Regions from separate parts of the Homo sapiens genome. Here regions 2 and 3 are each linked to region 1. The links come from fine-mapping of genetic effects on gene expression. A gene starts in region 1. Each other region holds a variant in brackets. All regions are shown on one strand. Distances are from middle to middle.

The links. PIP is the estimated chance that this variant, and not a neighbour inherited with it, causes the effect.
Region 2: its variant is fine-mapped to the expression of GNG12-AS1 in whole blood (GTEx, PIP above 0.99).
Region 3: its variant is fine-mapped to the expression of GNG12-AS1 in whole blood (GTEx, PIP 0.94).

Annotation. Positions count from the first base shown.
Region 1 is chr1:67,828,059-67,838,790 of GRCh38, reverse strand. GNG12-AS1 (GNG12, DIRAS3 and WLS antisense RNA 1) reads right to left here and starts at 6,503. Exons shown (of 10, transcript NR_040077.1): 1 at 6,355-6,503. It overlaps GNG12 (G protein subunit gamma 12), which reads left to right and starts at 5,324. Exons shown (of 4, transcript NM_018841.6): 1 at 5,324-5,447.
Region 2 is chr1:68,266,844-68,277,575 of GRCh38, reverse strand. No RefSeq gene overlaps it. Among named protein-coding and RNA genes, the nearest start is that of WLS, 40 kb to the right of the region's middle. RefSeq lists an enhancer at 608-1,235. The variant G/T (reference allele first, on the strand shown) is at 5,876.
Region 3 is chr1:68,250,606-68,261,337 of GRCh38, reverse strand. No RefSeq gene overlaps it. Among named protein-coding and RNA genes, the nearest start is that of WLS, 23 kb to the right of the region's middle. The variant G/A (reference allele first, on the strand shown) is at 5,880.

The sequences.
Region 1 (10,732 bases):
TGACAAAGAGCGTGTTTCTGCTGAATCATTTAATTACTTGGTATCTGAGTACATTCCATATCAAGGCCAATATCCAGCTTTTCTGGCTGAGTTCTGGAAATGAGCAAGGGCCTGGCATTGCTCAGACTGCCATTAGTTAGCCTTGCTCATGTGAGTTCTGCAAATGGGAGCTTTGATGCTGGATACTGCTGACTGTGAAGGAGAAAAATCCCCAAACCTCCTCTGTATATCTGGAGGCTAGATGGATCGTGTGGGAAGGGTGTGATGAGGGAAGGGGAAAAGAGAGAGATTTACTCCATCTAATTCCCAGCCTTTCCTCTGGAGCTGGACACCCTCCCCTCCTCCTCAGCTGGGCTCCTTCAGCGTCCCTGTTTTTTCTCCTCCAGGTCTACGTCTATTCTTTAGAACTTTGCCTCTCTTCTGCCAGGACAATTTATTTTGTCAAGGACTTCCTCAATTATTCTGTCTTGGAGAGATCCAAGCCAGGAAAGAGAAACCTCAGTTCTCCTCCTGGTACTTTCTCAAGTGGAACAGCATCTGAGGGCAAACTGTAGAATAAGATGATGATCTTATCAGGAGAATGAGAAGGAAGAGGAAGAGGAGGAGGAAAAGAATAAGGAAGAGGAAGAAGAAGGAGAATATACAGACCTTAGCTACCCAAATACTAATACTGTCACTTTGCTCTGTTATAATCACTACTCAGAACTGGGATATACTTTAAAATATACAGCCTATACATATTTTTAATAGAAATTCAGATAAATTGAAATCTGAAAAAGTAAAATCTAGGTTGCAATTTGCCATGCTGAAAACGTTTTCCAGTCCAATTGTCTACACCAGAGGTTGCTACACTTCTTTCCTAAAGGGGCAGATAAAACACTTTAGGCTTTGCAAGCCATAAGCTCTGTTACAGCTATTCAGCTCTTAACCTTTGTAAAAACAAAAGCAACCGTAGACAACAGGGAAATGAATGAGTGTGGTTGTGTTCCAATTAAACTTTATTTACAAAAGATGTGGTCCTTTGGTCCTCTGGCCATAATTTGCCAACTCCTGGTCTGCACAATGCCTTTTGTCTTTTTATATTATGAAAGAAAGATACATTTACAATATGCAAAAAGACATGATTTATAGAAAAGCTACACATTCACTGTGAAAAAATTCATGCAGTATAAAAAAGGTAGGTTACCTGAAATCTCACCACCCTGAGAAAGTCACTGTTACTATTTTGACAAACATCATTGCAGATACACTTACAGAAGAGATTCGTGTGTATGTATGCTTTTTTATACATGAATGGAAGCGTCTCCACATGATGGTTTATAATCTGCTATCTATGTTCAAGAATGCATTGAGGGCATCTTTTCATGTGAACATATTTAGATCTATATCTTTTTTTCAGAGTGCTTTAGAGGGAGGTATCTTATCTCTTGTGATGGGCATTTGGGTTGCATCGCTGATATCCTCTAAATCTCTACTTTCTAAGAGACCACTGCTTGAACTCCTCCAATGACAGGAAATTCATTAACTCTTGAGCCCATATGTTTTATTTCTAGACAACAGTATCTGGGGACTTCCACTCCCTAGAGCTAGAGGGCCTATTGCAGTAATAAGCCAGAGAGCTCATATTGAGTTAGTAATCAACTAACTTGCATGGGTGCCTCCATTTTGGGTCACTCCCACCCAGGCCTCTGAAGGTTTCCACCCATGTAAGTGTGGAACTATGCTAAATTGCCTTCTGATCTGTAGCCACAGTTTTGGTCATAGCTCCTGCCTATGGCAATACACGTTTCAACAGGTTACTTGGGGATTTCCAAGACTGTGGGTGCTTCTCCCTGACCTAACTTCTACATGGAAATATGGCAGTCTCCGACTGAGCAGAAAAACCAGTTTGGAAGACACTTATTCCCAGGTGACCTACTCAAAAGGAGGGAGCTCTCCCTGCCTTCCAGGGCAGGTCCAGACAAAGAGTGAAGCCATGTGCAATAGGACCAATAAAATCCACAGGGAGCAAAGCTGATATCCCAAAAATGTTGTTCTGAAGTGAGATCTCCATCTCTAAAAAAATAAAATAAAAAATTGTTCTGAAGTCTGTGGAGACCTGATCACCGAGAGACTGACTGATTTGCCTCACTTTTTCATTTCTTCACCATCTCTTTCTGACTCATCCTTTAGCTACAGTGTTGTTATTGAATATTAAATAGAAATTCACAGTAGATTGACATATGAATTGCAATTCGTTAAAAAAAAACAACTGTCCTGAATTATAAAACCACTTCTCTTGCTTGTCTCGTGAGGGATTAAATGGCCAAGAAAGCCACTTTTTAAAACTAAAATCTAATTTCCATAGAATTGGGACTTTAGAGCCATTCTCTTACAATCCCTTTATTTTAAAGACAAGCAGAGACCCAGCAAAGTTAAGTGACTGTCTCAAATTTACACAGCTTGTTAACGGCAAAGCCAGGACTTAATCCCAAAGACCTTATCTCATAAAGCATAAATTTCACTCCACTCCACTGACACTCTTTCATAGGAAACTGATTTATTTGTTTTGAATGCCACTGGGTGAGGGGGTAGAAAATAGTTCATTAACTATTTTATAGCAAGAACATAAAAAAAAGGAAAAAAAAAAGTTAAAAGAAGGCTAGAGAAAGAAAAAAAAAAATAAGAAACCAAACAGGCTCATGGAATTTGGCCCAACAGCATAGGGAACTCTGTAGACAATGTAGATCCACCCAGTTATCACAAATATGAGCAAAGGAGCTGAAATATTTATTCCTCCACACTGGCTAAAGGCTAGGGATGGAGGTGGAGGACATTAATTCTACACATTTCCAGCTGCCCTGTGCCCAGGCAAAGCAAATCCTGCAGCTGGAGCTGGTACTCTGAGAATATGATGTGGGTGCTGGCAGGAGGGAATGAAAGCACGCCTGGAACCAGTGTGCACGAAACTGGAAAAGGACTGGAGGGGGTATGGCCAAGCACTGGCAGCAAGTGCTGGAATTAGGCATGTACTTTAATATAAACTAGAGTAGAAGATTGATGCTTGCTTTTCAAACCCATGATTACATGCTTGGAGTTACTAACTGCCAGGGTAATATATGTACAAAATAACAAAAGTGAGTCAATAAGAAATATAAATAAAAAATAGGAATTACAGTTGTATGAAAATGGAATGTGAATCCTTTAAGTTTGGGAAACATCAGCAGAGTAGAAAGGACACTGGATCAAGGGCATCGATAAAAGCACAAAGTATTGGGTCAGCCAGCCAAGGTTTGAATCCTGGCTCTGCCAGTTTTGCTCTGTAAGACCTAACCTTCCTGTGACTACGTCCTTAGGTTGTTAGGAGGATTAAAAGGTTTAATATATGTAAAGCACTTAAAGCAACATCTGCTACGCAGAAAGTGCTGGTTAAGTATTAGCTCTTATCATTCCTGCCTTGCTATTAGGTTGATGCAAAAGTAATTGCGGTAATAACTTCTGTACTAACCTAATACTATCTCGATCAGTGCTTCTCAAACTATCTGTGATATTTTATTTTCAATCTGTTGCAGGCTGATGCCTTTCCACATAAAAGAAAAATGAAATAGACATAAAATACAAAGCTGCATTTTAAACGATTTAACAGACATAAAATTACTCTGTCAAATTGCTGTAAGTTTCTACATGCTCATCTTCAATTTCTATGCTCATCCCTTTGTAGATGGGTAACGGTTTGCAGACTGTCACTATTCCATGAACCACACTTTGAACAGCACTCAACTAGAAAAACCTTCGACAAGCCGCTTAAGTTACTGGTGGCAATATGTGGTGTTCCAGCTTCCAGGTTTTTTCAAGAGACTAATGAGAGAAAAGTAAGAGTAAGTACATGAAAGCACTTATTAAACTATAAAGTGTCCCAGGAAGGAAAATTAGTAGCATAGCTTAGAGGAGTCTATTCTGTGGTCTGTGGCCAAAAAATACAAACTCCAGTATGCCACCCTCTCAGTCCCTGTGGTGTCAAGCTGTTCTGTTTCAGGTGTATCATTTGAACTGTTAGTACTTGTGAATCAGTCAAGCATTTCCTAATGCTGAACAGAACAGGAAATAAAGACCCCTCTGGCAGTCTGTGGCTTGCATCCCACAAACCACCGCCATCCGCAGCTTGCTAAGACCACACTCCTGGGGCAAGGCATGCATTCATACACCTACTCTACCTGTGACACCTCTTCTACATGTGCAAATGATTTCACTAAACCTGAAACTTGCTTAGGGGTCAGAAGGAAAGCAAGAGGGAATATAATGCCCTGACTGCAGTCCCTAGTTCCCAGATTCCCCAGGGCCCACTTGTCCTCAGTTGGTGAAACTCAATACACAGACATCCCTCACCAATGCTTTCAGACTCCATTTCAAGTGTGGACTCTGCCCACACTGGTTCTAAGTGACCTACTTTGGCCTCACCTCTTTTCTCTCCACCCTGTCAAACAAGAAAGCGGCTACCTAGGAATACTCTAGAAGTCCGCTGAGTGGTTTTCTGAACATCCAGCTTCTTTACTCTTTCTGGACTCCAAGAAGGCAAGCCCCTTGTCTGATTCATCTTTGTACCTCTCCCATCACCTTTAGCATCGCAGTTGGTACACAGCGGGTGCTTGGTAATGTCTGTCGAATGGCCAAAGGAATAGTACAAAATCTGTGGAAGCGGAAATGGCTCCTCCATTTACCCGACCTTGAACCCTTCCAGAAAAGACCAACCAAATCCCATTAATTCATTAGGCAGAACTCTGCCAGGTACTGGACATTCGGAAACAAATTTCAGGGGGTCGGGGCAGATGGACGGGAAGCTCATGGTGGGTGGATGTACTACAAATTCTATAATCCGCAGTTATACCTCCACTTTCTGGGAAACTTCTCTCCGTGGCCCCAGGGCCCTTTAAATGTTACTATGCGTGTTTTCCTCCATAGTTTCTGGAACAGAACCAAACTTTCGTGTAGGGGTTTGGCAGCGCTCATCCTCACAGCCCTGGGGACCGCTGGCACAGGGGCAAGCGAGGCGTTCGCACGCGAAGGAAACTTGCGAGGAGTCAGGGCGGCCCCGCGCGGGGGCGGGTCGTAGAGTGGGGGCCCTCAAGTCCTAGAACTTCAGGTCCTCCATGAGAATTAGAGGAAGGGGGATGGCCAAAGACGACCAGACGTCCACCGAGCTTCCACAGGCCAGGCCTCGCCCCTCCTCCTGCGGGGCCACAACGCGGGCTCCCCGGCCCGGGACAGCACAGCCAGGGCGTCCGGGCGGGAGGCAGGGCCCGGCGCGGAGGAAGGAGCCCGGGGCCGCCGCCGCCCCGCCCACCCCAGCGAGGCGGAGCCGGCGCCCGGAGGAGCAAGAGGAGGAGGAGGAGGAGAGGTCGGAGCCGTCTCCAGGAGCCCTTAGAGACCGAGTCCCGGCGGCGACGGCGGGGCAGCGCACCGGCAGGCGGGTGAGTACCAAGCGGCGGGCGCGGGTGGTGAGTCGGGTCCCCGCGGGGTCGGGGCGCGGCGCGGGGCGTCGGCCAGCGAGTTCGGGGGCCGCCTCCGAGTCCCGGGTGCTGGGAAGCGAGATGGAGGGAGGGAGCGGAGGAAGGAAGGAAGGAGGGAAGAGTGTCCTGCTGGAGGGCGGGGACTGGTCTGGGCGCTGGGCGCCGGAGACCGGGGGGAGGGGGAGGAAGGGGCCAAGGGACACCGAGACCCAGAGGCAGAAACGGCGCGCGCGCCCTCGACGGGCGGCCGCCCGAGGTTGCGGGAAGCCGCCCCCACGGCTGTGGCTGGGGCTAGGGCTGGGGGTGGAAGGAAAGGTCTCCCCTTGAGCTCGCTTGCCTCCTCGCCAGCCTGCGGCCGTGCGCCCCGCGCCGGGTTGGGAGGCCCCCAGTGTTCCCAGCCGTGGCTTGTGGTGGTGTCAGGCGTTGGAGGAGGGCTGGCATGTGGGGGCGACAGGGACGCCACGCCCCTCTGCCTACTTTCTACCTCCCGGGACCAGCCGGCGGGAGCGCAGCCTTGGAATCCGCTGGGCGCTGGGGGTCTAGCAGGGAAATAGCGGGTCGCAGAGGGGAGAGCCCATATGACGCACCCCGCGAGGGACCCCCGAGTGGGGACCCGAGGCTGCTTTTCTGCAGACTGTATTTGCAAGTGGTAAGGGGGAGGTTGAGGCTTAGTCTTGGGTGATTTTTTTTTTTTTAATTATTGCCCCGACAGTTATCCCGTGGGGCAGGGTGAATTCTGTTTTTCATTTTAATTAGGGCATATCAATTAAAGCTAACTTTAAAACGCTGTCACTTAGCACCTCCCGTCACTCACTCGTCCCTCGCTTTGTGTGTCCTGTAAACTTGGCTTAAATCATTCATAACTCACGATAAGGAAGCCGTGATTCTTGTTCACGTCGCCGCAGTGGAGTGAAACTTTGCCCAACTGGGACTGAGTGGAGGCATTGCTGCGGCCGGTCATCTGGTGGTCATCCTGCCGGGCGTGGTTGTATACAAACAAGTGGGTCGAGAAGGAAATCTCTGAACACCAGAGGTAGAAGGGAGGTTCCTGCGCCCACGTGTCAGGGCGCGTTTAATGGCTGCTCCCAGCGGAAACAAACGGGAATTTATTAGACCGTGTGGAGTTGGACAAACTTCACATGATTAGCTTCCTTCCCATCAGTTACTTCCTCTCCCCCCTGCTGTCTTTGCCGACACAGTTTATATTTCCTGGGGCGGTTGTAGCTTCGCCTGAATAGGCTGTGTATAATGAATCTTTTGGATGTCGTCAGAGGCAGGGTCTGCGTCTGTGCCTTCTCTATTTTAAAAGCGGAGTTTGGCTTTGTTTTTAAAAGTGCTAGTCACCAGACTGCACCCTTGCCAGCGCTTCGCAGCTCTCGAAGTAAATTATCGCAGGATGGCGGCCCTCACCTAGGAGAACCAGGAAGGCAGGCAGCGCTAGAACGACGGGATTGAATTTTACTATTGCCAAAACAATCACATTCAAGTAAGGAGCTGTTTTGTTTTGTTTTTGTTTTTTTAACCAAATTATATATACTAGCAAGCCCCTTTTCTAGTAAACTAACGTTATTCACACACACAATTTTTAAAGTAATCAAAAATTTTACAGAGTCTTAAGTGATAAAAGGACTTTCAGATAAAATGTTCAGTCCCTTTGCCTTCTCTAATAGTTAACCAGCGCCGTAAAGCCCTGGTTTAAGTCCAAAAAATGCTGAAAAGTCTACTGCGTCGTTAGACCTTATAAATAATGCAGTCCTATTTTTGCTGTATTTAACTCATGTAATTTACTAGATATCGAACCCCCAACAGGGCACACAGCACTTAGATTTGTGTAGAAATATATGAAAATGTGAATCTGTGTTTCACAAGAGCCTGAAAAAAATAGAATTATAAAAATTTCCTGTCCAGAAAGCTCCAGTCTTACTTGAAAGCTCTCTAACAATTAGATTTGTGGATTTGTGTTGTCACTTGTTAGAGAATATCGGTGGTTTATTAAAGTGTGAGAGCAAAGGGCTTCATGGTCAGAAAACTTGAGGAAGTGGTTAGCCAATATCAAATTAGTTTTTTTTAAAATTAGAATTATGTGATTTATTGTGTTTTGCTTTGTTTTGGAGTTTTATGTCAGCTTAAGCTTAACCTAGGAAGGCAAGTTGTGAAAGCAAGTAAATTTTTCTGAGCCCTAACTTGGAAGAGAAGCTTGTTTAACAGTGATTTGGGGTGTTGGCTTTGGAGTCAGACAGACTTAGATGAAAATATTAGCTATTTAACCTTTTTCAGTCTGATTTATAAGATGGGGATAATAATGGTCTCTATCTGTAGGGCTTTACAGAAAGTATATGAAAACTTTGTCTTTGGAAAACACTTAAACTGGACTTAACACGCAGTACATGGTCAAAATTATTAGATATTTATCTAGCTTGTTCAAGCAGCAGGCTACTGGATAAATTGCAGGGTGGCAGCTTGAACCTTCCGGAAATGCTAGATAGAGCAATTTCAAATTCTACAGAAAGTAACTGGTGTGTGTGTGTTTGTGTGTGTGTATGTGTGATGTTTCTACCACAGCAATATGAATAATTATGATTAAAGGATTAATAGTTTTAATATGCTTTTAGTGCTAAAGTTACAGTTGCATAGTAATTTTGACAGTCAGAAACATTGCATTATCCTTTACATTTAAAGAGAATTTATATTTCAAATAGTTGTGTTTATTAGCCCTAGGTAAGAAATTAAGCCAGGAACAGAAGTATTCATCTTTAACCAAGTGTAATTCTTAATCAAAGTATGAAAACATGTGACCCAAGGGTATCCGGTTATTTACTTTTGCATGTGCTGATGTCCAAGGCCAACAGATAAGCCATAAGAAGTGTTAGGCTGATTGTGAGTCGTTGTTTTATTTGTAAACTTTCATGAGATTGGGTGTTCAGTTAATTCAGGAAATCTACTCATCACATTGTTGACTCATTTCCTAAAATCTAAAAAATTTTTTAAATGCCTTCATCTTGCCAGGCGCTGTGGCTCACACCTATAATCCCAGCACTTTGGGAGGCCAAGGTGGGCGGATCACCTGAGGTCGGGAGTTCAAGACCAGCCTGACCCACATGGAGAAACCCCATCTCTACTAAAAATACAAAATAAACCAGGCGTGATGGCGCATGCCTGAAGTCCCAGCTACTCGGGATGCTGAGGCAGGAGAATCACTTGAACCCAGGAGGCGGAGGTTGCGGTGAATCGAGATCGTGCCATTGCACTCCAGCCTGGGCAACAAGAGCAAAAACTCTGTCTCAAAAAAAAAAAAAAAAAAAGCCTCCATCTTTAAAACAAACCCTTTAAAGCTTCTTGTTTTTGTCCTAATGCACGTCAGGTGCACAGAATTGGGCTGAACCAGGATCTTAGCTCATGCCACAGATGATTTCTCATTTTACTAATTGCTCCACTGGGACACAGAGATGTGGTTTATAATAATTTTAAATAACTATAAAGGGTACAGTGTGATTATTAATTGTTTCTTGCCTATGACATTATGCTCTGAAACAACTGAAGCATTTGATTGAGTAAATTATTGATTCGTTTCACTCCTAGAACATAACATAATGATTTCTGGCTCATACTTCTAGGTGAGTAGACTGTGAGCAAGTTACTTAATCTATGCTTCAATAAGTGTTGTGAGGAATAAATGAGCTAATCTATGTATATAGCATTTGGAATAGTGCCTGGTGCATAGTCCACATTCAATAAATGTTAACATTAAATTATTGAAATTTTCTCTAAATGTTGTATAATGAGCATGCATTATTTTTGTAACAGGAAAACAGCTATACAAAATTTTAATATTTCCCCCAAATCTAAAAAAAGCTCAGTAATTTAAATAGTCCTGCCAAATAGTACTTAAAAAGTAAGAGAATTAGACAATCATCATTTTGTCTTTTAAATGTGAAATGGTTTGCAATATTAATTTGTTAAACAAGTTAATTCTTCCAAATCTCAATTCCATTTTCTTTTTTATTAGAGACTTTAAAAAATCAGTAATACATGAAGTCTGTTACAGTTTAAAATGGGGAAAAGCAGTATGCACAGTTACATTGTGTTATTACAATTACAGCTAGCTTAAAAATTATTTTTAAACCATAAGAAAAGCCTAGAAGAAAATACAGACAAATTGGTGATGGGATTATGGTGCTCTCCCACCCCCAACCTGCTTTTCCCCTATTTTCCACAATGCGCCTATATATATACTAAAATATAATTCATTTGTGTAATAGTTACTAAACAAATCTGGTTTATTAACTACAAATACTAAAAAAAATTTGCGTAATAGTTACTAAAAAACAAATCTGGCTTGTTAACTACAAATAGCAGGATTTTATTGTTGTTTTGGAAAAAGCACCAACTTTATGGCAGTTGAATGTCCTTCGGTTAAATGTCAAAACCTTTGCAGTGAGAATTGTTTAGCGGTAAAAGAGAAGGCCTTTCAGAAGCTTGTAGTTTGATCTTCATGAAGAATATTTGAAAAGTCTACCAGTGGGTTTTTAGGATCTGCATATAGACCTAGTCCACCAACCTTGACTTTATGGAAGTTGTGACTTCCCAGATCCAGGCCTGCCTTGATGAGCTGCGTTTTTACAGCACCTTCAGTATATCAGACACCTGGAAGACAGTAATGAGGCAGATATTGGTGCACTTAGTTTAACAGGAAGGTTGGATAGATAAAAACTAATTACAGCACAATTGTATATATTATATATCCTGAGCCCTTTCTAAACTCTTCCCGTATACAGTCTTGCTCAGTTGTCACAACAGCCCAGAGGAGGAAGCTGAGGTTCCTTAAAGGTCTGAACCTTGCTCAAGTTGCAAGGACAGAATTTGACCCAGAAGCATCTTAACTCCACATCTCATGCCCTCTGCACGGAGATGGAGGTGCATCCAGCCAGAGGTGAGAGTGAAGTGGGCTTTATGGAGTCAGTTTTGCTTAAAAACTATAAAACTAATCAAGAGAAACATGAGGAGGAGACTCCTTTTAGGTGACCTTCCTGAGGAGAATCATCAGTGCCTCTCCATCAGGCTTGCCACTCTTTAGCCATAGCAGTTAACACTTCCAAATGGCTGCTGAGACCCAGCAGGCCTGAAGCGCACACAAAGGCCCAGTCCTTGGTGACCCTGTGAAGCCTACCTCTTTCATCCCTGGACTTCCAAAGGGGGTCTGGATAGTACAGATGAAGGAACTGACTCGCTAAATCCTGTTCTAGAAC
Region 2 (10,732 bases), 440 kb before region 1:
GCTTCAGGTACTAGAGAAAAAAAGTTAAATAAAATATCCTCTACCTGCAAGGAGTCTGACTATAATCTGTTTGCAGTTTGTTGGAAACAGACAAGTAAGTATTTTACAAATACTGTTCTAAGATAGAGGCTAGCACAAGATGCTAGGAAACAGACCAAGGAAAGAACCCTGGAAAAAGAAGTACTAAGTTGGGCTTTTTGGTTTTGTTTTTTTTCTTCTTTGCAGGTTCCAAAAATACATTTAGCTCCATATATTCCCCATCCCACCTCCTTCCACCCCAGAGTTTGTTTAAGGAGATTTTTTTCTTTTGACTTGTGCTAAAAACCCAGTGCCGCAGCATTTCCTCTCTGGTATAGAGGCCATCCTTCTCCACCAATTTCAATAAAATAAAATCAAAGTAACTTTTAGTTATATCACTTCCCCTTGTTTGTTGTGGGAAATTATGAACTCTTTGAGGCACCAGCACAGTTTCTTAGAATATAGAAAAGGCTCAATAAACATTTCCCGAATAGTGGGCAAGTGAATGAAAGAATGAAGTTCTCTACCTGTGCAAGTCTTATGTGTCACATGGAGACCCCTCCTCTGGATTCTCAGGGTCATGAGAGCAGCCTGACACTGGGTCTGGCCATCCAGAAGCACTTAAAAAGTGATAGATAATAGTGTAATTAGTTACTACCATCTATAATTACTATTTAGTGGGTGGTTCCAAAATATTTAACATATTTATTTTTACTTTTAGAGTAAATGGGTTGGGGGGTGGGGCGGGCAATGGAGAGAGAGAACACTTTCAGGCCATGATGAAAACCATGTGAGGCACTCCACAGCTGTTTTTCAGACCTCTGCAGGAGCACCATGCATTGCCTCCTTCTCTCAGCCAAATTCCAAGATCTAAGGGTTACCCCCCAGGAGGGAACATGCCATTCCCAGCAGAGTCCATTATCTCTTGCAACCTGTTATCTAAACAGATTGTCTCCTTGGCTCCATTAGATGAGCAGATAAGCATACCTGAAGCTCCTGGGGCGCTCTGCCATTTACATAAGATCCCAGTGCCTTGGGCCACTGCCTAGTGCCTAAGGAACCCAAAGGTTGTCTCTCTCAGAACTCAAGACTTTCACTCCTTTGCCTCCTAGGCATTTGCCAGTCACAGAATTCTCCACTACCAGGCCTCTTGGCAAACCAAGTGTCCAGACCAGTCTGATTCCCCAGGTTTAATCCTAAACCAGTAGCTTGCGTCTTCCTTTGCTGAGACCTACTTTGAAAGCCAAAAGGACTGAGTTGTCTGCAAATAATTCCAATGCCACCATGAGATTTGGGGTTTATTTTATTTTATTAGAAACAGGCTTTTGTTATGTCATCCAAGCTGACATGGAACTCCTGGGCTCAAGTGATCCTCCCACATCAGCCTCCTGAGTAGCTGGAACTACAGGTGCATGTCATCACACCTCGCTTTTAGGATTTGTTTTTAATAGAAGTGAGTTATCCATTAGCATTTGTGAGACATATCTGGAACGTCACCTCAAGTATGAAGACTGACTTAACTCACTCCAGCTACCTGGATTTTCATTTTGAAAAACTAATGTCTAGGCCTGGAGCTACAGTTTTGCTCCCAGTTCAAAAATGTCTGGCATATAATAGGTGCATAAGAAATGTTGTTCCAATTAATGGAGAAAATGTCAGTTTGGCCTTCATCTGAATGAAACATTTACCTTGTTTGGGTAGAGAGTTATGAATCTGGAGATGGCTGGTCCCTCAGTCTACCCGTTCAGAAAGAACATCACTCAGTAAATCATACCAGGCAGTCAGTCGGCACTTTCAAAAACTGTGCTTCATTATGGTAGGACTGGGAGTATAGAAGGAACAAAGGGAGTGTGTGTGTGTGTGTGTGTGTGTGTGTAAATATATATATATATAACTTGCATAATTTTAAATTTTATACAATAAAGATAGAGCATACATATGACAAAATACTAACATGAATGAACCCTTCATGTTATGGAAATATATACTACGTCTGTTCTTTTCTATATTCTGTATTTTTTGTTGTTGTTCATAAGAGACAGGGTCTTGCTCTGTCACCAACTAGAGTGCAGTGGTGTGATTATATCTCACTATAACCTCGAACCCCTGGACTCAAGGGATTCCTTGAGGCTGGGATCACCTTAGCGTCCCCAGATGCTGGAATTACAGGAGTGAGCTGCCGCCCCAACCATATATTCTATTTCTAGCTACTCTATATTTCTATTTCTGAAAATTGTCAATTTTTTTTTTTTTTGTCATTGTTGTTGTTGTTGTTTAAGATGGAATCTCACTCTGTCGCCCAGGCTGGAGTGCATTGGTGCGATCTTGGCTCACTGTAGCCTCCACCTCCCAGGTTCAAGTGATTCTTCTGCCTCAGCCTCCTGAGTAGCTGGAAATACAGATGTGCACCACCATGCCCAGCTAATCTTTGTATTTCTTTAGTAGAATCGGGGTTTCACCATGTTGGCCAGGCTCAAACTCCTGACCTCAAGTGATCCTACCACCTGGGCCTCCCAAAGTGCTGAGATTACAATCATGAGCCCCCGCACCCTGCCCAAAGTTTTTTGTTTTTTTTTTTTAACTATGTTGCAAGGATTTGATCACCTAGAGAATGTGGATTAAAGGGAACCAGAGCTCTTTCACAAAGGCAGAATGTCTTCTGCTCCTATCTTTTTGAAAATGTACACTTAGTCCTACATCCCTCACAACAACATGAAGTGTTCAATATTACACTAGTCATTTTGCAGATGAAAAAAAATGAGGCATTGAGACATTAATTAACCAGCTCAAGATGATACAGATCTATCTGACTGAACTGGGCTTCAAAACAAGCAGCCTGTCTTCAGAACTCTCCCCTTTAATCATTGTCATAATGAACCAGAACCATCTGTAACAGAGAATGGAGCAGCAAGAATAGCTATCTTCTGCCTCTTTTCTGGAGCCAAAAACTGATCTGGAGAACTTCACACTCTTTCTAAGGCCATGTTATCTCAACCTTTTTCCCCGCTTTTATCCCTACTCTCTGCCTATTAAGTAGACTTTTTAGATCTTTTCTGATCATTCCCTCCCCACGAAATTTTAATACCACATATATGCCTTATATCTGTTTACGTATGATGAGGGGCCACAAAACATTTTTATATTTAAGATTTTTTTTAACCTTCCTAATAACCAACTTTCACCTCCGTGGCGGCAACATTGTCCCCCATTAAGAATGTGTGTTCTGAGGAAACCAATATTGAAGATTTCTGTAAGATCTTTTATGTTGCCATTGTTTATCCATATGTCACAAATACATGGTGTGAAACAAAAATCTCCCACATAGACTCCCACAGGAAATACAGTAATGGGAGAATTTCGGTTCTTTCTCCCTGGCTTCCGAGGTTGTGTCTCAGGAGCAACTGCTGGGGTGTTCATGAGGGGATGGAGAGTGAGTAACACCACAGTAATTGCCTCAGAGCTGGAGACTCCTGTTGTCCTTATTATACAGAGCCAGTTTCCAATTACATGTGCTAATGAGGTCCAGCAGTAAGATGGGTAATTGCAATCCACAAGAACTCCCAAACCTCATTTAGAAAGCTGTTTCAAGCATCTCTTGAGCCTGTGAACCAGACTAGGATAACTATTCCTCTTCTTCTTGAACCTGTAAGAACCAGACTGGGATGACTGTTGATTTTCCATTGTTTCCAGCCTCAAACAGAGAAGGAATAACGATCGGGCCTTGTTCACCTTGCATGTTTTTACTCAGGGCATTCCGTGAACCAAGCACTTTGTTGACCCCATTCACAGAGATGTCTAGTATGTACCCATAGGCTGCATATGTGGTAGGTATCGTCCTTTCTATTTTGAAGATGTGAAACTGACTGATGCAAAGTGTTACCAGTAGGAAGTAGCACAGTCAGGGTTCAAAATCTGGTGGTTCTAATTCCAGGTACATTCCTTCATGGTATCTTCAAAGCCTTATGAAAAAACTGGAAAGACCTGGAAAATGTTCAATTCAATTGAATTCAGTGCAATTTGAATTGTTAATCAATTTAAATGTTCATCATTTGAGCTTTAAAGGTAGGCAAACTGGTTTTTTTTCTTTCTAACTATATGTCCATAAGAAATTTCCTTAATGGCCCTTGCATGTTATTCAAAATTCTAATTAGTAAAACTGTATCGTCATGAAGATTAAATGAGGTAATGTTATCAAGCACCTACTATATCATCTGCATCAAAATATCCTGTTTCCTACTCCATTCATCGGTTTGGTCCTTGTATCATTTTGTATCATTTCTTTGTTTTTTCCCCTTGTGGCCTTATTGTTTCCTGACATTTTAAAATATCTATCTGGCCTTCAGAGCTGAATTGTAAGAACTTCAGGATCAGGAGCTGTTCTCATAAAGATGGTTCTCAAATTTCGAAATTTTTATCTTTTTTTTTTTTTTTTTTTTTTGAGATGGAGTCTCGCTCTATTGCCCAGGCTGGAGTGCAGTGGCACAATATCGATTCACTGCAACCTCTGCCTCCTGAGTTCAAATGATTCTCCTGCCTCAGCCTCCTGAGTAGCTGGGATTGCAGGCACCCACCACCACATCCAACTAAGTTTTGTAATTTTAGTAGAGACGGGGTTTCACCATGTTGGTCAGGCTGGTCTAGAACTCCTGACCTCGTGATTCGCCTGCCTCGGCCTCCCAAAGTGCTAGGATTACAGGCGTGAGCCACTGTGCCCTGCTTCAAATTTGTATTTTTTTAATGTGTGAAATCTTATACATTGCACATTGACACTCAAAGTACTAAATTAATATCAGCTTCCACACATCACCCAATGAGCATGAATTTGAACTCTCAACTAGTGGTGCCTTCGGCCAGGATTCCTAGGTTCAATTCGGATGGCATCATTATCTTTATGCAGCAATTTTTGCTTGTTCTATTATTTGAATAGCTAATCGCATTTGCCCTTCTAATATGTGAAAAGCCATAACAAAAAAGTGATTGTGACATAATAAAAGATATCCCCTAAATGGCAGATCTACATCTCAAATAGATTATTATTGGACTTAAGCTGATATTTGTGTTCAACTGTGAAGAGTAAGAATAAAATTAAGGGCCATGCATGAAGCATTGGAAGTCTGTCTTTTCAGGGTCAGCCTAAGAGGAGAGGAGTAGTGGTGGGGACATGAAGAACACTTTAGAATTTTAATTGTGAATCTGCATAAAAATCATTGACAGAGAAGTTCAAGGGTTTAAAGAGACATAGCCAAGGGTAAAGCTCACACAGATTTCTCAATTAAGTAGAGATTGGCAGAGTTGAATTTTTCTTTAACAAAAATATTTTTAAAAACTAATACCGGCAGGGCGCAGTGGCTCACGCCTCTAATCCCAGCTCTTTGGGAGGCTGAGGCGAGCGGATCACAAGGTCAGGAGTTCGAGACCAGCCTGGCCAATATGGTGAAACCCCATCTCTACTAAAAAAATACAAAAAACTAGCCGGGCGTGGTGGCGGGCGCCTGTAGTCCCAGCTACTCGGGAGGCTGAGGCAGGAGAATGGCGTGAACCCGGGAGTCCGATCTTGCAGTGAGCCGAGATCGCACCACTGCACTCCAGCCTGGGAGACAGAGCGAGACTCCGTCTCAAAAAACAAACAAACAAACAAACAAACAAAAAAACCATGAAATCATTTCATAATACCATGAAATCATCACTATAAGTTCCTGCTCAATCTCTGCACAACAACATTAGCAAATTCTTCTTCCCACAGTAAAATGATTTGGTTGTTTTGTTTACTAAATGTCACTTTTAGGAAGTAAGTTCTGCAAGGGCAGGAATATCTGTTTTGTTCAGAGATGTGTTCTAAGCACACAGATCAGCACCT[G/T]GCATGGAGTAATCGCTGAATAAGTATTTACTGAATGGAATTCAAGTAAACTGAAGTTTAAATAAGATATTACTTTGTAAAATTATCTGTTATACATCTGATGAGAGGTTAATATTCAAAATATATAAGAAACTCAAACAACTCAATAGTAAGAAAACAATCTAATACAAAAATGGGTAGATGGTTTGAATAGGTATTTCTCAAAATAAGACACATAAGTGGCCAACAGGTATATGAAAAAGATGTTCAGGATCACTAATCAACAGAGAAATGCAAATTAAGACCATAGTGAGAGATATCACCTCGCAGCTATCAGAATGGCTATTATTGCAAAGATGAAAGATAACATGTTGGCAAGGATGTGGAAAAAAGGCAACCCTTATACACTGTTTGTGGAAATGTAAATTAGAACATCCATTATGAAAAAAAAATATGGAGGTTCCTCAAAAAATTGAAAATAGAACCCATGATATGATTCAGCAATCTCACTACTGGGTATATATCTGAAGGAAATGAAATCAGTATGTGCAATAGAAGAGACAGCTGCACTTCCACATTCATTGAAGCACTATTCACAACAGCCAAGATATGGAATCAACCCAAGTGTCCAGCAATGAATGAATGAATAAAGAAAATGTGGTATATGTACACAATGGAATACTATTTGGTCTTTAAAAGGAAGGAAATTGTGTCATTTGTGACAACATGAATGAGCCTGAAAGACATTATGTTAAGTGAAATAAGCCAGGCACAGAAAGATACATACCACATGATCTCACATGTGGAATCTAAAGAAGTTGGACTCAGAGAAGTAGAGAGTAGAATGGTGGTTACCAGGGGCTAGAGAGTGTAGGGGGCTTAGGAAAATGTTGATCAAAAGACGCAAAATTTCAGTTAGGTAAGTTCAAATTAGTTAAAATAAGTTCAACAGCTCTATTGTACAACATGGTGACTATACCTAATTAAAAAGGTATGTAACTATTTGCTGCCGGGTGTGGTGGCTCACGCCTGTAAACCCAACACTTTGGGAGGCTGAGTCAGGCAGATCATGAGGTCAGGAGTTCAAGACCAGCCTGGCTAACATAGTGAAACTCCATCTCTACTAAAAGTACAAAAAATTAGCCGAGTGTGGTGACAGGTGCCTGTAATCCCAGCTACTCAGGAGGCTGAGGCAGGAGAAATGCTTGAACCTGGGAGGTGGAGGTTGCAGTGAGCCGAGATAGTGCCACTGCACTCCAGCCTGGGTGACAGAGCAAGACTCTGTCTCAAAAAAAAAAAAATTATTTGCTATATTCAATTTTTTTCTCTGTTTAATAATTATGTGATCCTTCTATAACCTAGGAGTTTAAGAAAATCTAAAATAGATAATATGATTAGGATTTTATTATTTAGCTCTCACAGGTTCAGAAAAGCTGAGTACCAAGTTAGGCTCTGTCATGCGTTAGGCATGTAACCTTGATCAAGTCACTAAACCTCCCTGAGCCTGATTTAAGATAGATAAATAGTAACATATTTATGTAACAAACCACATATTTATCTTTGTATCTGTACTGCAGAATTAGGACAGTTTATAAGAATACCTACAATAAACTAAAGTAAATAAATTGCATACAGAAATATGTAAATACATATAAGTTCCAAGAAAAATACAGGTTGAGTGGGAAAACAAGACTAAGTAAAAGGGCTCCGTTTCTTTTTCAGTTCTTAAGATACAACCTTAGAGATTAATGTGAGAATCAAATGATTTAATAGGATGCTGTTTGATAAAGAGTTCATTGACCATGATGCACAGAGAGGCTGTATAAAGAGAAACAAGCCCAGCCATACCTCACATTCCAGCCACCCCCATTGGAGCCCCAGACGTGTGAGTGAAGTCACCATAGACTCTCCAGCCCAGGTGAGTCACCCTGTCCAGCACCACACAGCAGGGATAAGCTGCCACCACCATGCTCTGCCCAAATTGGAGAATTATGGGCAAAAATATGGCTGTTTTAAACCACTACCTTTTGGGTTAGCTTTTTATACAGTAATAGATAAACAGTTTGGTTTCATTTCTTGGTCTCAATAGCAGCAACTTTCGTCTCCTGTCTGGAGCAACTCCCTCTTTATTTCACCAATTATCACTCCACTATCTGTCCTTTTGCATCCATGGATTTTGAAGGAAGGTCAGTGGTATTGTGTGGAAAAGGCTTTGGCCTTTGACTGATACCTCCAAAAAAATTATCATGTGTGAATACTAAACAAAAATAATATTTAAAGCTGCAAATTGTTTGGCAATACAAAAATAGAAATCTGAGCCTTCTATTGACCAAAAATCAGAAATTGGATGTCACAGTGGCTTGTTTGCATTAGGCCAGAAGGAAGAAAAATGATATTAGTCATTCCCAGTGAGCAACAGTGAGAGATTGGCACGTGCACATGAAATGCAATCTCGCTTCCCATAGAAAGTGATTAAAAAGATTAACACACACACAAACACACCTTTTGTATTCCCAATTTTAATATATTGTACAACAAATACGTTAATATCAAGGAAAAGAAAGTAAGCCACAAGCTTTTCACCAAAATGTAACTACAGTCATGTATTGCTTAATGATGGGGATACCGTCTGAGAAATGCATCCTTGGGCAATTTTGCTGTTATTCAAACATCATAGAGGGAACTTACACAGAACTAGATGGTATAGCCTGCTAACACCTCAGGTATAAGGTATAGTCTATTGCTCCTAGGTTATGAACCTGTACAGCATGTTAGTATATTGAATACTGCAGGCAATTGTAACACAATGGTAAATGTTTGTGTATCTAAACATAGGAAAACTGTAAAATAGGAAAATACAGTAAAAATAAAATATCATATAACACACCTATATAAGGCATTTATTATGAATGAAACTTGCAGGACTGGAAGTTGCCGTGGGTAAGTTGGTGAGTGAGTAGTGAATAAATGTGAAAGTCTAGGACATTTCTGTACACTATTGTATACTTTACAAACGCTACACTTAGACTACACTAAATTTGTTTTAAAATATTTTTCTTTCATTAATAATAAATTAACCTTGGCTCACTGTAACTTATCTACTTTATAAATTCAATTTTTTTAACATTGTGACTCTTCTGTAATAACATATCTTAAAACATACATTTTGCAGCTGTTCACAAATATTTTATTTTTTTATCTTTATTCTGTAAGCTTTTTTTCTACTTTTATCATTTTTTTTTAACTTTTTTACATTTTAGTTAAAAACTAAGCACAAAAACACACATTACCTAGGCCTACATAGGGGCAGGATCATCAATATCACTATCTTCCACCACTGCATCCTGTCCCACTAAAAGGTCTTCAGGGTCAATAATACACCTGGAGCTCTCATCTGTGATAATAGTGCCTTCTTTTGGAGTACCTCCTAAAGGCCTGCCTAAGACCATCTTTCAGTTAACTTTTTATTTTTATAAATAGAAGGAGTACACTCTAATATAATGATAAAAATATAGTACAGTAAATACGTAAACCAGTAAGTTTATTATTATTATCAAAGTATTATATACCGCACATCATTGTATGTGCTGCACATAATCATATGTGCTCTACAACTGGCAGCACAATAGGTTTGTTTGCAACCAGCATCACCACACACGTGTGAGTAATGTGTTTTGCTCCAATGTTATGATGCCTACAATGTCACTAGGCGAATAGGAATTTTTTAGCTCCATTTTAATTTTATGGAACCACCATCCTATAGGCAGTCTGTCATTGACCAAAATGACATTATGCAGTGCAAGACTGTATTTTTATCTTGCCAAGTTCCTTTTCGATCCCTTTCCAAGTGCATTAACTGTGAATCCTTATTTTTAGCTGATTAATTATCTAACTCCTCTTTCACAGGCACAAGAACCAATGTGAACCCAAAGCAATGAGGAAGGAAGGCAGGAAAGGGAAAATAAGGGAGTGTTCCTTGTTGCCCTGGAGGCTTGGAGGAAAGCTGCTTAATTCTCAATTTATTTTTCTCCATTTATTCAGTCAATAAATGTTACTACAAAATTTTTAAGTACTTTTCATTTCTTAAAATTCTTCAGCTGTGTAATTACTTGTTCATTGATCTTCTGCCCAGTTAGACTGTAAGCTATGCGTGAGGCCAGAGGCCAGATCTGTTTTTTCTCGTTTTTTTTTTTTTTTTTTGGTTGCAGTGTTGCAGTGAGCCAAGATCATGCCCAGGCTGGAGTGCAGTGGTGCAGTCTCGGTTCACTGCAACCTCCACCTCCCGGGTTCAAGCAATTCCTGTGCTTCAGCCCCCCAAGTAGCTGGGATTACAGGCATGCGTCACCACACCCAGCTAATTTTTGTATTTTTAGTAGAGATGGGTTTCACTATGTTGGCCAGGCTGGTCTCGAACTCCTGACCTCAGGTGATCCGCCTGCCTCAGCCTCCCAAAGTGCTGGGATTACAGGAGTGAACCACCATGACTGGCCTCAGATCTGTTTTTTCTTAATCACTACTGTATATCTAGCGTCTAACCTAATGCCTAGCACAATGCCTTAAGAGGCATTTAGTAAATGTTTGTTGGTTTGAAGTATGGGAATTGCAAGTCCAGAGGACACATTTACCAAACTAGGAATGGAAAGGAAGAAGTAAGGAGAAAATGGTTGTTAAATAGTGGGTGAGAGTCTATACATTAAAAGGAGAGCGTGCATGCTCTAATGTACTTTATAATAAATGTGGTCTATTTGATTAATGCTGCCAGCTCAAATTTGGGTCTTCTGGAAAAAAAAAATGATGAAACCATCTCCGGAGACATTTTGTATTCAGTTCATTTAATATTTATACTGAGTTTCTTAAGTCAGCATCCTCAAGGAGACC
Region 3 (10,732 bases), 420 kb before region 1:
AGTGAGCAGAGATTGTGCCATTGCACTCCATCCTGGGCAACAAGAGTGAAATGCCATCTCAAAAGAAAAAAAAAGAAAAGATCAGGCACGGTGGCTCACACCTGTAATCCCAGCACTTTGGGAGGCTGAGGCAGGTGGATTGCTTGAGGTCAGGAGTTTGAGACCATCCTGGCCAACATGGTGAAACCTCGTCTCAACTGAAAATACAAAAAACAGCCAGGCGTGGTGGTGCACACCTGTAGTCCCAGCTACACAGGAGGCTGAGGCAGGAGAATCGCTTGAACCCAGGAGGCAGAGGTTGCAATGAGCCGAGACTGCACCACTGCACTCCAGCCTGGGCGACAGAGCAAGACTTTGTCTCAAAAAAAAAAAAAAAAAAAAGGGTGCAAGGGTGCAGTGGCTCATGCCTGTAATCCCAGCACTTTGGAAGGCCGAGGCAGGAGGATCACCAGGTTAGGAGATCGAGACCATCCTGGCTAACACAGTGAAGCCCTGTCTCTACTGAAAATACAAAAAAATTAGCCGGGCTAATATATAGTGTCTTTTGATTATACACTTGACTCAAAAGTGTTTGAAGAAATAATTTGTGAATTGGTATATTAGTTTCCTGTTTTGGTTTTTGAAACATTTAAGGTAGTGACTAATACAACTAAGATTTCTCAGCTTTTTCTTTTCATTTCTTTTTTTATTTTTTTCAGAGATAGGGTCTTGCTCTGTCACCCAGGCTGGAGTGCATTGGTGCAATCACAGCTTGCTGCAACCTCCACCTCCCCAGCTCATACAATCCCCCCACCTCAGCCTCCTGAGTAGCTGGGACTACAGGCAAGTGTAACCATGCCTGGTTAATCTTTGTATGTTCTGTAGAGACGGGGTTTCGCCATATTGCCCAAGCTGGTCTCAAACTCCTGAGTTCAAGGGATCTGTCTGCCTCAGCCTCCCAAAGTGTTAGGATTGCAGGCATAAGCCACCCTACCTGGAGCTGATTTCTCAGCTTTTTCAACCAGACATTAGAAACACTACCCATTTCCTGGACTCTGATAATTTTTTTTCCATTAAGCAACACGAAGAAAAGACAGCATGGGGAAACCAGTAAATTCAGAAATTACTTCCCTATCCTATGTGCATATAGACATCAGACATATAGACATATAGAAGCCAAAGTATGAAGAAAAGAAATTCATAAAGTTCAGTCATTTCTATCATAATTGAATCAAAACAATAATTTTTAAGCCACTATCTTGTCAAAGCTTAGGCATAACTTAATGAATAAAGAATAAAGTTTACTCCAATCTGCCACATTATTCTATTGATATTTTTCCATAACGCACTGAAATATTCACTTATATTTTTAATGTGACATTGTAATTGATTGCTTTCTTTTTACTTCAAAAAAATTTTTGATTCTCACACTTACAACTAAAATTGGTATTACTTTTTAAATTAGAAAGCATACCTCAACATAATTAAAGGCTTTTTATGGAAAAATAAAGGCTTTTTATTGGAAAGGAAGAAGTCAAATTATCCTTGTTTGCAGATGATATAAACTTTTATTTGGAAAAAAATATAAATACTCCATCAAAAAGCTGTTAGAACAGATAAATTTAGTACAGTTGCAAGATACAAAATCAATATACAAAAATAAGCAGCATTTCTATACATTAACAGTAATCAATCTGAAAAAAAATCAAGAAAGTAATCTTATTTACAATACTACAACAAAACCCCATAGGAATAAATTTAACCAAAGAAGTAAAATATCTTTAATAGAAAAACTATAAAACACCGATGAAAGAAATGGAAGAGACCACACAGAAAAATGGAAAGATACCGCATGTTCATGGATTAGAAGGTGTAATATTATTAAAATATCCAGGCCTGGCATGGTGGCTTACGCCTGTAATCCCAGCACTTTGGGAGGCCGAGGCGGGTGGATCACCTGAGGTCAGGAGTTCGAGACCAGCCTGGCCAACATGGCGAAACCCTGTCTCTACTAAAAATACACAAAATTAGCTGGGTGTGGTGGTGGGTGCCTGAAATCCCAGCTACTTGGGAGGCTGAGGCAGGAGAATTGCTTGAACCTGGGAGGTGGAGGTTGCAGTGAGCAGAGATTGTGCCACTGCACTCCAGCCTGGGCGACAGAGCGAGACTCTGTCTCAAAAAAATAAATAAAATAAAATAAAATAAAATATCCATACTGCCCAAAGCAATCTACAGATTCAGTGCCATCCCTATCAAAATACCAGCAACAATTCTTCACAGATATAGAAAAACAATCCTAAAATTCATATGGAAATAACAAAAGATCCCCAATAGCTAAAGCAATCCTGAGCAAAATAAACAAAGTTGGAGGCGTCGCACTATCTAATTTCTAATTGTGCTATAAAGCTATAGTAACCAAAGCAGCATAGAATTGGCATTAAAACAGACACATAGACCAATATAACAGAATAGAGAATCCAGAAATAAATCCACACTTACAGTTAACTCATTTTCAACAAAGGCACCAAGGACATACATTCAGGAAAAGATAGTCTCTTTAATAAATGGTGTGCAGAGAACTAGACATCCATATACAGAAGAATAAAATTAGATTCCCATCTTCTACCATATACAAAAATCAACACAAAATAGACTAAAAACATAAATGTAAGACCTGAAACTACAAAAGTACTAGAAGAAAACATTGGGGAAACAATATAGAACATTGATCTGTACAAAGATATTTTGGGTAAGACCTCAAAAGCATAGGTAACAAAAGCAAAAATAGACAAATGGGATTACATCAAGCCAAAATGCTCTGCACAGCAAAGGAAACAATTGACAAAGTGAGGAGAAACCTACAGAATGGGAGAAAATACTTGCATACTACCCATCCAACAAGGAATTAACAAGAATATATAAGGGACTCAAACAACTCAATAGCAAAAAAACAAATAATCAAATAATCCAATTTAAAAGTGACCTAAATAGACATTTCAAAAGACCTAAATAGACTTTTCTCAAAAGAAAGCATACAAATTACCAATGGGTATATGAAAAAATGCTCAACATCACTAATCATCAGAGAAAATGCAAATCAAAAACACAATGAGATATAATATCATCCCAGTTAAAATGGCTATTATTAAAAAGACAAAAAATAACAAATCTTTATGAGGATTCCACAAAAGAGAACAGCTGTACACTATTGTTGGGAATGTAAAGTAGCACAGCCATTATGGAAAATGGTATGAAGGTTTGTCAAAGAATTAAGAATAAAACTATCATATTGTCCAGCAATCCCAAGGCGAGGTATATATCCAAAAGAAAGGAAACCAGTATATTGCACAGATATCTGCATTCCCATGTGTATTTCAGCACTATTCACAATAGCCAAGATATGGAATCAACCTAAGTGTCCATTATTGAATGAGTGGATATAGAAAATGTTACATATACACAATGGAATATTAGCCATAAAAAAGAAGAGTCCTATTTGCAACAACATGGCTGGAGGTCATCATGTTAAATGAAATAAGCCAGGCACATACACACAAATATCACATATTCTCACTCATATACAGGAGCTAAAATAATGGATTTCAAGGAGGTTGAGAGTAGAATGGTGCTGACCAAGGGCCTGTAAGGAAACCAGTGGAGATGAAGAGAAGTTGGTTAATAAGCACCAAAATACTGTTAGGTAGAAGGAATAGGTTATGGTATTTGATATACAGTAGGGAAATTATAGTTAATAATCAGTATTGTATATTTCAAAATAGGTAGATGGGAAGAATTGTAATGTTTCAAATAAAAAGAGAAGATAAATATTTGAGGTGGTGGACACCCCGTTTGCCCTGATTGATAATTACACATTACATATGTGTATCAAAATATCACATGTACCCCAAGATATGTATAACTACGATACCTCAATAAAAAGTACCAAAAATTTTAGACAGCATGTTTACAAAGGAGATGTGGTGTACATACTGTATATTATGTAACATCCCCAGCAGAGTCTGAGGTAGCATTTTAAAATCTAAAGCATTGTATCAGCTAGCTATTACCTCAATAATTCATCATAACAAAACACTCCAAAACTCGATGGCTTACAAAAGCAACCATGTTTTTCTTATTTCATAGCTCTGTGGGGATGCTGTTCTGTATTTCTTCTCATTCTTTCAGGATCACTGATTCCCTGGGGCAGGCCTTCTCATGGTGAATAATGGGAAGGCCAAAGACCCAAAAAACTCAAATCTCATCAGCACATTTAATGCCTCTGCTCTCATCAGCTCCCCTCACATTCCATTGGCCAAAGCCAGTCATATGACTAAGTCCAGCTGTAGCAGGACCAGCCGCAGGCAAAACTCCTCAGACACCGAGTTAAAGAAAGAAGGGGTTTATTCGGCCAGGGGCATCAGCAAGACTCCTGTCTCAAGAGCTGAGCTCCCCAAGCGAGCAATTCCTGTCCCTTTTAAGGGCTCACAACTCTAAGGGGGTGTGCGTGAGAGGGTCATGATTGATTGAGCAAGCAGGGGGTATGTGACTGGGGGCTGCATGCACCGGTAATTAGATTGGAACAAAACAGGATAGGGATTTTCACAGTGCTTTTCTGTACAATGTCTGTAATCTATAGATAACGTAACCAATTAGGTCAGGGGTCAATTTATAACTACCAGGCCCAGGGTGTGGCACCAGGCTGTCTGCTTGCAGATTTCATTTCTGCCTTTAGTTTTTACTTTTTCTTTCTTTGGAGGCAGAAATTGGGCATAAGACAATATGAGAGGTGGTTTCCTCCCTTACAACGTTAGGGAAATATATTTCTTCCCATGAGGGAGAAGGTAGGTGAAGTGTTGCTATAAAATACTCAAATTAATATACTAACATTTCTTCAGTAAAACATATGAATATCTCTGCATTCAGTGGGATAAATACAAATTATAAATAACCCCAAGATAGTTTGGTTTTCAGAACCTTTTGGATTTTATATTTGAGATGAAAATCTCCATCAAGCCCTTGTGATCCTTCCTCTCTTGTCCTTTTACTCTGTAATTCCTACTCCTGAGACCAAGGGCTTCAGTAAGGATGGCGTTCCCTCTGCTTAAGGCCGCCAAAAGCTACTGTTGCTACATGTCTCCTAATGTCCTTCAAGGCATATATGTCATACACTTCTTTTGTTACCCTCACAGAACCTAACAGAAGCTCCGGATCCATAGGAAACCCATAAGAGAAATGCTTATTCAATTGGATTATAACATCAGTGAAGCCTGTAGACCCAATGCAAGCCAAGCATGAAAAGGTGTGAGGATGCCAAGGCTTAAGGACATTTTCTGTCATTCAGTTCTTGCATCTCATCCACTCCTACTCCATAAGTGTTCTCTTCTTAAAGAATATCTTAACAGTTTGCAGCTGTGTTAATCAAACTTCCCATTGTCTCTTTATTACATAACTCACACTTTCACATTTTTAAACAAAATGAGATAGTTACTTTGACTTCAACAATAGTCTCCTAAAATAAAGGGGGGAAGAGTTGGCATTAGAGTTATACTAACATCTAAGGCCAAGTAATTAGTGACTCCACTATTTTTCTATTCCCTTAACTATCTGAGAATCATGTATCTAAGAAGATTTGAAGTACGGCTGTGGATTTGTGTTTAAAGTGGAACATTGCCCAATAACAGTGCTGTCTACTATATATTTTTCCCTAACTCTTCTGGCCTAAAGTGTAATTAAAATAGAGAGCTATTACAACCGAATGGTTATTACTTGTTTCATATTACAGTAGGTTGGTTGATGTCTTCTTCAGAAATAAATAACTCAACTTCACCTGGAGGACTTTTCCGATGTCCCAATGTGATCCTTGAGTGACGAAATCATGGTTTCTTAAGTTTTGGAAGGAA[G/A]ATGAAATAAACCCAAAGATTATGAAAGAAGAACAATAGAAAATTGCTGAATCACCAGCAACTGAACCAAACAAAAGAGTTTAAATAAATAATTTATTTTTAAACCTACATCATAAAAAATGACAAATCAAAGATAAATAAATCAATAGAAGCTTTGTAGGTCTCAAAGGAGATTTCTGGGCATATTTCTGGGACTTTATAAGTTGACGCAAATTCTCTATCACTTTTTAAAATTAGCTGGTTTATTTTATTACAGCAGCAATAAGGTTCAAAATTTTAAAATAAACAAAATAAGAAAGCATAAATTAAAACATCAAATTTCCCTACCTTCTATCTTTTCCTTCTCTGTAACCACGGACGTAACCTCTGGTAACATTTTCTTCCATTTATAGCCATTGAGAATATTTCACTTTCAGTGTTTATATTAATTTGCTCAGGCTGCCATAACAAAATACCTCAGTCTGGGTGGCTTAAACAGCAGAAATTTATTTTCTCACAGTTCTGGAGGCTAATAGTCCAAGGTCAAGATGTCAGCAGGTTGAGTTTCTTCTGAGACCTCTCTCCTTGGCTTGCAGTTGGCTGCCTTATTTCTAAGCCCTCACATTGATTTTCTCTGTTTGCTCACATCCTTGGTGTGCCTCCAGTGTCTTAATCTCCTCTTCTTTACAAGGACACCAGTTGGATTGGATAAGGACCCACACTAACAGTCTCATCTTAATTTAACAACCTCTTTAAAAGCTTTATTTCCACATACAGTCACATTTTCAGGTGCGGAGAGTGAGGGTTTTCACATACAAATTTTAGGAAAAGACTGCTCAGCCCATAACACTATCTTAAAAAGCAAAGCAATGCTACAGCAAAATGATGAAATTCCTGTAGACATATCTTTGAACACTTTTGCAGGCATATGGGTAAGATAAATTTCAATTTGGGGGTCAAAGAGTATGCTCAGCAATAATTTGGATAGATGTTGATAAATTTCCTACAAAAGGTTTGTAATAATTTATTCTATCAACAATATATAGACCTGCATAGTTCCCTTCAGCTTTGGGCTTACATAACCTTTTAATATTCTTAATTGGATAAAAAAATACACTTTGTTCTTCAGTTTATGTATTTTAAAATATTATATGGTTAAGTATCTTTTCAGGTGTGAATTGCGCACTCATATTTTTTCCATAAACTCCTTTGCCCACTTTTTTTCTATTGGGTTATATATCTTTGTTTCTGTTTTTGTTTTGGAGACAGGGTTTCACTCTGCCACCCAGATAGAGTGCAATGGTGCAATCATGGCTCACTGTAGCTTCAGACTTCGAAGCTCAAACGGTCCTCCTGCTTCAGCCTCCCCAGTACCTCAGACTACAGGTACATGCCACCACTCCCAGTTAATTTTTGAATTTTTCTTTTGTAGAGGCCATAGGGTCTGGCTATGTTGACCAGGCTGGTTTCAAACTCCTGGCCTCAAGGAATGCTCCAGCCTCAGCCTCTCAAAGTGCTGGGATTACAGGTTTGAGCCACCATGCTCAGCCTTACCTTTTATTTACTTATTTGGAAGAATTTTTTTTATATTAAGGTGCCTTGTCGTATTTGTTGCAAATATTTTTTCCCAATATGTGCTTGTCTTCTATTTGACCTTTTTTCACGGCAGAGTGTTAAAATTGATAGAAATTGAAAATGTTAAGATTAAAATGTAGATATTAATCTTTTTCTTTTGGCTTGAGGACTTTGAAATAAGTTTAGAAAGGCATTTCCTATACCAAGTTTATGTTTGGATTAGTATTATTCATGTTCTTGCTTATTATTTTGGGATTTCTTTTATTCACATCTTAATAGAGAAGAAGGAAGGGTAAAATCCAGGTTTATGTTTTTCAAATGTTCAATCAGTATTACCAACATTATTTATTTAATAATTTATATTTTTCTCATTTATTAAAAATGTGACTTTTATCATTTTATTATTAAACTCAGATAATTACTCCAGATTATTTATGGATTTGTTCATCTATCTCATTGATCTTTTTTGTTTATTTGTGGTCAGAAAGAAAGTTCAGATACTTTAAAGCAACACTTTATCTGATGTACTCAACCCACCTCATGATTCTTCTCTTTTCAAATATTTTCCTACGTGTTTATTTTGTCATATAAATTTTAGCATCATTTCATTCAAATTTCAAAAATCTTCAAAAAACTTTGTTTATATTTTTGATAGGAATTGCTTTATAGTTTAGATTAATTCAAAAATAACTCTTTCAAAATATTGATTCATCAGATGGAAACCATCATTCTCAGCAAATTATCACAAGAACAGAAAATCAAACACCGCATGTTCTCACTCATAAGTGGGAGTTGAACAAGGAGAACACATGGACACAAGGGAAGGGAACACCACACATCCAGACATCTGGGCCTGTTGGGGGGTGGGGGGCTAGGGGAGGGATAGCATTAGAAGAAATGCCTAACGTAGATGACGGGTTGATAGGTGCAGCAAACCACCATAGCACGTGTATACCTATGTAACAAAACTGCACATTTTGCACGTGTACCCCAGAACTTAAAGTAAAAAAAAAAATTGTATGCAGAGAAGTAACATAGGAACATAAACTTTAGAAAAATGTTACTAATCAGATAACTTTGAATAAACCACTTAATCCCACTAAAAAATAGATAGGTAGGTAGGTAGATAGACAGATATAGATAGATAGATGATAGATATAGATAGATAGATAGATAGATAGATAGATAGATGATAGATAGATAGATAGATAGATAGATAGATAGATAGATAGATTCATCTATCCAAACAAAAGATGTCTTTTCATTTAACTCATTTTTAAAAATTTTGACTCAGTGAAATTTTAAATTTTCATGCTTTCTTATTAGATTCATTCCTAGAATAGTTATTGTGAATGAGATATTCTTCTCCATTCTACTTTCTAGCAGATAATCATTATTCTAAAGTAAAGTACTGGACTTTTTTTTTTTTTTTTTTTTTGAGATGGAGTCTCACTCAGTCGCCCAGGCTGGAGTGCAGTGGCGCAATCTTGGCTCACTGCAACCTCCACCTCCCAGGTTCAAGCAATTCTCCTGTCTCAGTCCCCCAAGTAACCAGGACTACAGGTGCGCACCACCACGCCCGGCTAATTTTTTGTAGTTTTAGTAGAGGTGGGGTTTCACCATGTTGGCCTGGCTGGTCTCAAACTCCTGACCTCACATGATCCACCTGCCTCAGTCTCCCAAAGTGCTGGGATTACAGGCATGAGGCACCACATCCAGCCAAGTAATTGACTTTTAATTATTGTGATTAGCTTTATTATTGCTTGAATTATTTTTATTTGAATTTTTAGATTTATAATTGTATCAATCACACATAATTCTAAGTTTGTTTCCTTCTTGTTTCTCTTTTTATTCTCTTCTTCAGTTGCAATGGCTAGCATCTCCAAAATAAATATCAAATAATAATGGTGATTTCAATTCTAGATTGTACTAGAGAAATTCACCAATACAATAAAGCAAGCAAACAAAATGAAAGCTATAAAGTTTGGAAACAGAAGTAAAATTATTATTGTTCATATATGACATGATTGTTTATGTAAAAAAATTGAAAAAATCTACAAACAAATTATAAGAATACATTTATTTTGTAAGGTCAGTGGATAGAAGGTTGATATAGAAAATCAATTTTATTTATATGTACTACACAACTAGAAAATAAAAAAAATTTAATACTTTTTATAATAGCACTGGAATTTTCTGTGTTTGGGTATAAAAGTAATAAAAGTAGTACAATATCTCTTCCTTAAAAATAATAAAATATAGGCTGGGTGCAGCATCTCATGACTGTAATTCCAGCACTTTGGGAGGCTGAGGCAGGAGTATCACTTGAGGTCAGAATTTCGAGACCAGCCTGGGCAACACAGCCAGACCCCACCTCAAAAAAAATAATATATATATATTTTTTAAGTTAGCTGGGAGTGGTGGCTCATACCTGAATTCCTAGCTACAGGGTAGGCTTAGGCAAGGTAATCACCTGAGCCCAGGAGATTGTGACTGCAGAGAGCTATGATTGTGCCACTTCACTCCAGCCTGGGTGACAGAGTGAGACCTTGTCTCAAAAAAGAAAAGATAAAATATGGCCAAGAAAAATTTCTAAAAGACCCTTTTAAATCAAATGGAAGAAATCACATGTTTATTGATTGTAAGCTCAATAAACTTGCAATCTTGATGCCTGTTCCTGAAAAACACCATTAAAAAAAAAAACAAAAACGGAAAAGACAGATCACAGACCAAGAGATGATATTTTCAATACAAATCTTGAAAAAGTATCTGCGTCCAGAATATATAAAGAACTTCTACAAATAAGTAAAGACAAAAATGGTGATCAATTTAAAAAATAGAAAAAAGACTTGGACAGACATTTTACAAAAGAGGATATCTCAATGAACAAAAGGCAACAGCATAGTCATCACAGAATACATATTGAAACTCTAATCATATACCCATATATCCCCACCAGAATGGCTAAAATTAAAAAGACTGACACTGCTAAGTGTTGATGAAGATGTGGAACAATTGGAACTTGATTTGCTAGTGTAAATGTATGTTGGCATATCTACTTTGGAAAATTATTACAGTACAGTAACATTAAATACACCCATATTTCTGTAGCCCAGCAATTCTTCTTTTGCATAGATATTTAACACAATGGAATAGTCATGTCAACCAAAAGACAAATACAACAATGCTTACAGTAGCTTTATTCATAATAGCAAAAACTGGAAGAAACTCAAATGTCATATAAACTGTGATAATATTTACACAACGAAATGAAATAAGCAAAATACTGCTACATGCAA